Regions from separate parts of the Homo sapiens genome. Here region 1 is linked to region 2. Evidence: fine-mapped expression QTL. Tissue or cell type: whole blood. Region 2 holds a variant in brackets; the other region holds the start of a gene. All regions are shown on one strand. Distances are from middle to middle.

Region 1 (2,752 bases), 40 kb before region 2:
GTGGGAGCGCTGCTTCCCACATATGGGAGTCCGGCCCCATCGCTCTTTGATCTTTGCAGCGTCCGTGGCCCCACCGACCCCGTCGTGAGTTATGGGAGGCACGGGACCCATAACCCAGCATTCTCAGACTCCCAGGGTCGTCAGGACACGGCGCCCCGCGCGGTGATGGATGAGCCGGCCCCAGCGCTGGCTTTGTCCGGGTTGGGCCGGTCTGAGAAGCTTCAGGCCGGCTTTGGACGGGGCGTGGCGAGAGCCGCGCCGCGTGTGAGTGTGTGTGTGTGTGTGTTTGTGTGTGTGTGTATTGGGGCGGTTGTCTTTCTCCCTTCCCTACCGGGAAAGAGGGCACAGGTGCGCCGTCAGCGCCCCAGGTGAGCTGGTAGCACTTTGAAGACCCTTTGTACCCCTACATCCAGGAGCGACCTCTCGGAGAACCCCGCCTGCCCACTCTGCGCACTTTCTGCGGCTACAAAGGCCCCGCCGTTCCCCGTCCCGCCTCCCCCGCCCTGGGCATTTCTTCCGTCCCTTTTGACAGTCTAGGCGGAATAATCCTTTTGTGGCCCCGGGCCCCTGCCCTGACAGACGCGGCCGCAGCTGAGCGCGCAGCCTCGCTCCATTGTTGGGGTCCACCGAGGACCGCCCGCCGCGGCCCTTTGTCGCCCGCCCTGCGCGGGGCCGCTCCAGAGGCGCCACAACTGCCGGAGCCCCTCCCGTCCCACGCGCCCTGGGCCGCGCCGAGGCGGCTCTTACGCACCGGGAGGAGTGGGCCTGCCTCGCCCGGTGCCCGCACGGCTGCTGGGCTGCGCCCGCCTTTGTCTGCCTCCTTTGTCTGCCCCGCGCCCTCGCGGCGGCGGCGCCTAGGCCTCTGGGGAGCTGGCCCAGAACTCAGAGCGCAGCTGGCGAGGGCGCGCTGGCCGGGTGCGCGCCGGGCCCGGCCCCGGGGCTGCCCCTCGGCTGGGGGCAGTCGAGCCCGCCACCCGCCGCCCCTCCTCTGTCCCCTCCCCGCGCTCCCGCCCCCTTCCCTCCTGCCCGCCCACTCCCCCTTCCTTCCAGTCCCGCTCAGCCCGGGCACATCCTCCGGCTGCCCGCGCACCTCTCCACGCCGGCCCCGTTCCGCGGCTCGCCCTCGGCTGCGCTCGGCTCCCGCGGGCGCTCGGCCCCGAGCCCCTCCTCCCCCTACCCGCCGGCCGGACAGGTAAGGCACGGCCTCGGCCCGCCCCTGGCTCCGCCCCTCCCGCCCCACCTGGCTGCGAGCCCGGACAAAGGTGGGCTACCTGGCGCGCCCAGGGGCGGGGTGCGCGGGGTCCCGAGGCTGGAAGTGAGGATGCTGCCTCCTTCCCAGCCCTCGGACCCGTCTATCCGCCAGTCCTTCCGCCGCCTCCTCTCCTCGCCGCGTCTGCCCACGGACCCTGGCTCTGCTCCCGGGCTCCCCATCCGTCCACCTACCGCTGGACGCCCACTTTTCCACGCTCTGACACTCGGCCTCGCGCGCGCCCTCGCCGCCCTCTGGGGTCCCGGCTCGCACCTACTCTCCTCGGCACTAGCCTTCTCTCTCCCTGACCCAGTCTCCCTTTGTCTCTCTGTCTCTGAGTCTCCGGGTGGTCTCTCAGGCAGGGGGCCCCAGTCCGCCACCGTTGGAAGAAGTCTTCGAAGACTCCCTGAGCCCCGGGCAGAGCTGGCGGGCGTGCCCTCCAGCCCCTTTCGAGGCCGCCCAGGAGGCTGGGGTGTGTGGCCGGGGTCGCTGAGTGCGCCCGGAACCAGCACCGCCGGTGGCCCCGCGCCGTCCCATCTGTGCCCAGGAAGGTACTCAGCCTGGCTCCCCCGACGGCGCTGGTCTTTCGCCTGTGGTCTCCCGCTCTGTCCCTCCTGCTCCCCACCGCCGGCTTTTGGCTTTTCTCCGTCCGCTCGTCAAGGGTCTCAGCCGCCTTCGGGGCCGGGGTATGAGATGAGAGAGGGCTGGGGTTTCCCGCCAAGTCTTTCTTGCTTTCCTCAGCTGGGTGCTCCCTGGGCCATCCTCTCCGCCCGGTGGTCTCCCCTGCCCTATATGCTCCCTCCACGCTGCCCACCTCCCAGCCCAGTGACACACTGGTGTCTGGAACCGGTTCAGTACTATGCATCTGGAGTCGGGTACACTGGGGCTCTGGGAGTGATCTCGGACAAAGGAATGCACCTCTCTGAGCCTCAGTGTTCCTGTCACAAAACAGGGATGGTGCTAGTCCCTACCTATAGGGATGTGTGTGGAAATTGTGGGGTGCCGCTTGGTGCTGGTTCACACACCCTGTGGAGGAAGGGAGGGGAGGGGAGGGGAGTCTACAGACCTGGGATGGGGTGGGGACAGGGGGCTCCACAGAAATGGATCTCAAAGTCAAGGCTTAGAGACACTTCAGAGTAACCCCACCACCACAGCCTCTTCCCCCATCACACTTCCTGTCACCTTCACCTCCTCGTGCCCATACAGGCGTCCACACCCTTGCAAGCACTCTTCTCTTTCTCTCTCTCCTCCTCTTTGCTTGTCCTAAAATCAGCTAAAACAATCAGGGCCAATGGGTCACTTTTTTTCAAAATGAGATCAGTGTGGCTGAGCTGGTGTTGCCAACAACTGATCACCCATCAGAAGGCGTCCGGTGACTCACCCCCAATTCTGAACCTCAGTCTTGGCTTGATGCCTTTAATAGCGGCACCAGCTCACAGGCCACTTCCTTTCCTCTGAGGGGATTGTCTTGCTGGCTCCTGGACCTGCTGTGTGCTTGCCCAA
Region 2 (2,752 bases):
AGGCAGGTGGATCATGAGGTCAGGAGTTTGAGACCAGCCTGGCCAACACAGTAAAACCCCGTCTCTACTAAAAATACAAAAATTAGCCGGGTGTGGTGGCACATGGCTGTAGTCCCAGCTACTTGGGAGGTTGAGGCAGGAGAATTGCTTGAACCCGGCAGGTGCAGGCTGCAGCGAGCCAAGATCGCCCCACTGCACACTAGCCCGGGCGACAGTGTGAGAGTTCATCTCAAGAAAAAAAAAAAAAGCAAAATTAGCTGGGCATGGTGGTGTGAGCCTGTAATACCAGCTACTTGGGAGGCTGAGATGGGAGGATCACTTGAGCCCAGGAGTTGGAGGCTGCAGTGAGCCAAGGTTGCACCACTGTACTCCAGTCTGGGTGACAGAGCACCTAGAGGGCCCTGTCTCAAAAAAAGAAAATAAAATGCATTTAATACACCTAACCTACTGAACATCATAGCTTAGTCTAGCCTACTTTAAACATGCTCAGAACACTTACATTAGCCTACAGTTGTGCAAAATCATGAAAAACAAGCCTATTTCATAATAAAGTGCTGAAAACCCTATGGAATTTATTGAACACTATACTGCAAGTGAAAAACAGAACGGTTATACTGGGGACTGGAAATATGGTTTCTACTGAACGCAGATCGCTTTCGCACTGTTGGAAAGTAGACAAATCATGTCAGACCATTGTAAGTTGGGGAGTGTCTGTACTCACTCAATACATGACCCCAAGCCTTGTGGAATGCCACGTGGGGGTCTATTATGTCCTTCCATAGCCAAGAATAGGTCGTGGCAGGAACTCCGGTTCCTTTGAGGATACCGACAGTTTCACTTTCTTTTGTTTCTCCGTGCTTCCCACCTCCCCGCATCCCCCCAACCCCACCAGCCTGCCAAGCCCGCCCAGCCAGCTGGGTGTTCTCGTGCTCTCCTCCCTCCGCCTCTGGCCCCAGCTGGTGGAGATGAATACAGTGTCAGTGTCTGAGCCACAGGGACGTTCCACAGGCCCAGCCTTGTGCTGCCTTCCGATCCTTGTCTTCTCCTACTTGCTTCACTCTATCCTTCTCATTTCAGCCCTGGCCGGATTTTTCTGCTGTGTGGTTACACGTCAGGGTCCTGGAGCCAGGCTTCCTGGGTCCCACCGCAGTTCCAGCAGCAATTAGTGCTGTGCCTGCAGCAAGCGGCTTCACTTCTGTTGATTTCAGTTGCCTAAGTGTAAACAGGAATAAGAACAGCGCGTGCCATAGTTC[T/C]GTTGTGAGCATTTACTATGAAGAACTTTCTTTTTTTTTTTTTTTTTTTTTGAGACAGGGTCTCGCTCCGTCTCTCAGTCTCTCAGGCTAGAGTGCAATGGCAGGATCTCGGCTCACTGCAATCTCTACCTCCTGGGTTCAAGCGATTCTCATGCCTCAGCCTCCCGAGTAGCTGGGATTATAGGCATGTGCCATCATGCCCGGCTAATTTTTGTATTTTTAATAGAGACAGGGTTTCACCATGTTGGCCAGGCCGTTCTCGAACTCCTGACCTCGGGTGTTCCACCCGCCTTGGCCTCCCAAAGTGCTGGGATTATAGATGTGAGCCACCGTGCCTGGCCCACTATGAAGCCCTTTCACACTGTCTGCCACACGACAACTACTGTTGGGGCTCAGAAAATGTCACCCCAATATCTGGTGCTTTGGCATGCTAAGTACTATGAACTACAGAAGACTGGAGGCCTCAAAAGCAAGGTCTCTGTGACGCCCTCCTGACCTCCTGTCTCCAGCCCCTCCTTCTCCCGTGAGGCAGTCACAGAACAAGAATTCCTCCTTTGGCAGGGGATGAGGTGACTCAAGTCTGTAATCCCAGCACTTTGGGAGGCCGAGGCAGGTGGATCGCTTGAGCCCAGGAGTTTGAGACCGGCCTGGGCAACATGGCAAGCCCTGTCTCTATAAAAAAAAATACAAAAATTAGCCAGTCATGGTGGTAGGTGCTTCTAATCCCAGCTATTCAGGAGGCTGAAGTGGGAGGATCACCTGAGCCCAGGAGGTTGAGGCTGCAGTGAGCCATGATCACACCATTGCACTCCAGCCTGGGTAACAGAGCAAGACCTTGTCTCAAGAAAAAAAAAAAAAAAAATCCTCCTTCTCCAAGGTGGGTCACAGAAACTAGAACCCGTGTCTCCAAAGTAGCCATAAAACCTAGAAAGGTGGCTCTCTCCCTTCTCTCTTTAAAGACCTCATTACAGAGGGGTTCTACCTCATACCCAGGAGGAAGGAATGCTGCATGGAGAGCCCAAGAAGAATCTGGACAAGACTTGTTCATTTTCTTTTTATCCAATTGCATTGCTACAGGGCTGTTCATTCTTCCTTGAAACTAAGCACAAAAATGGACAGATTTCCCAGGGCCTTTGAGTCTTCATCTCTGAAGCCTCCCATGTCACATGAAGCTTTGCTTAACTAAACTTGGTATGCTTTTCTCTTGTTAAGCAGTCTTTTTTTACAGGAGTGTCAGCTGTGACCTTTATGATGGGTGAGGAAAGGTATCACACCCTTCCGCCCCTACAGGGTCCTGTAAATGTCAGTTTAGTAAATGTCAGCTCTAATCCTAGGAGTTGTTTTGCGGTTTTTTTGTTTTTTTTTTGACATGGAATCTCACTCTGTTGCCCAGGCTAGAGTGCAGTGGCAGGATCTCGGCTCACTCCAACCTCCACCTCCCAGGTTCAAGCAATTCTCCTGCCTCAGCCTCCCAAGTAGCTGGGACCACAGGTGCACAC

What was found. PIP is the estimated chance that this variant, and not a neighbour inherited with it, causes the effect.
Region 1: DRAXIN starts here. The variant in region 2 is fine-mapped to the expression of DRAXIN in whole blood (TOPMed, PIP above 0.99).

The regions. Positions count from the first base shown.
Region 1 is chr1:11,690,662-11,693,413 of GRCh38, forward strand. DRAXIN (dorsal inhibitory axon guidance protein) reads left to right here and starts at 1,049. Exons shown (of 7, transcript NM_198545.4): 1 at 1,049-1,192. It also overlaps a transcript of MAD2L2 not described here. RefSeq lists an enhancer at 1-364.
Region 2 is chr1:11,731,009-11,733,760 of GRCh38, forward strand. No RefSeq gene overlaps it. Among named protein-coding and RNA genes, the nearest start is that of AGTRAP, 3.8 kb to the right of the region's middle. RefSeq lists an enhancer at 1,084-1,173. The variant T/C (reference allele first, on the strand shown) is at 1,254.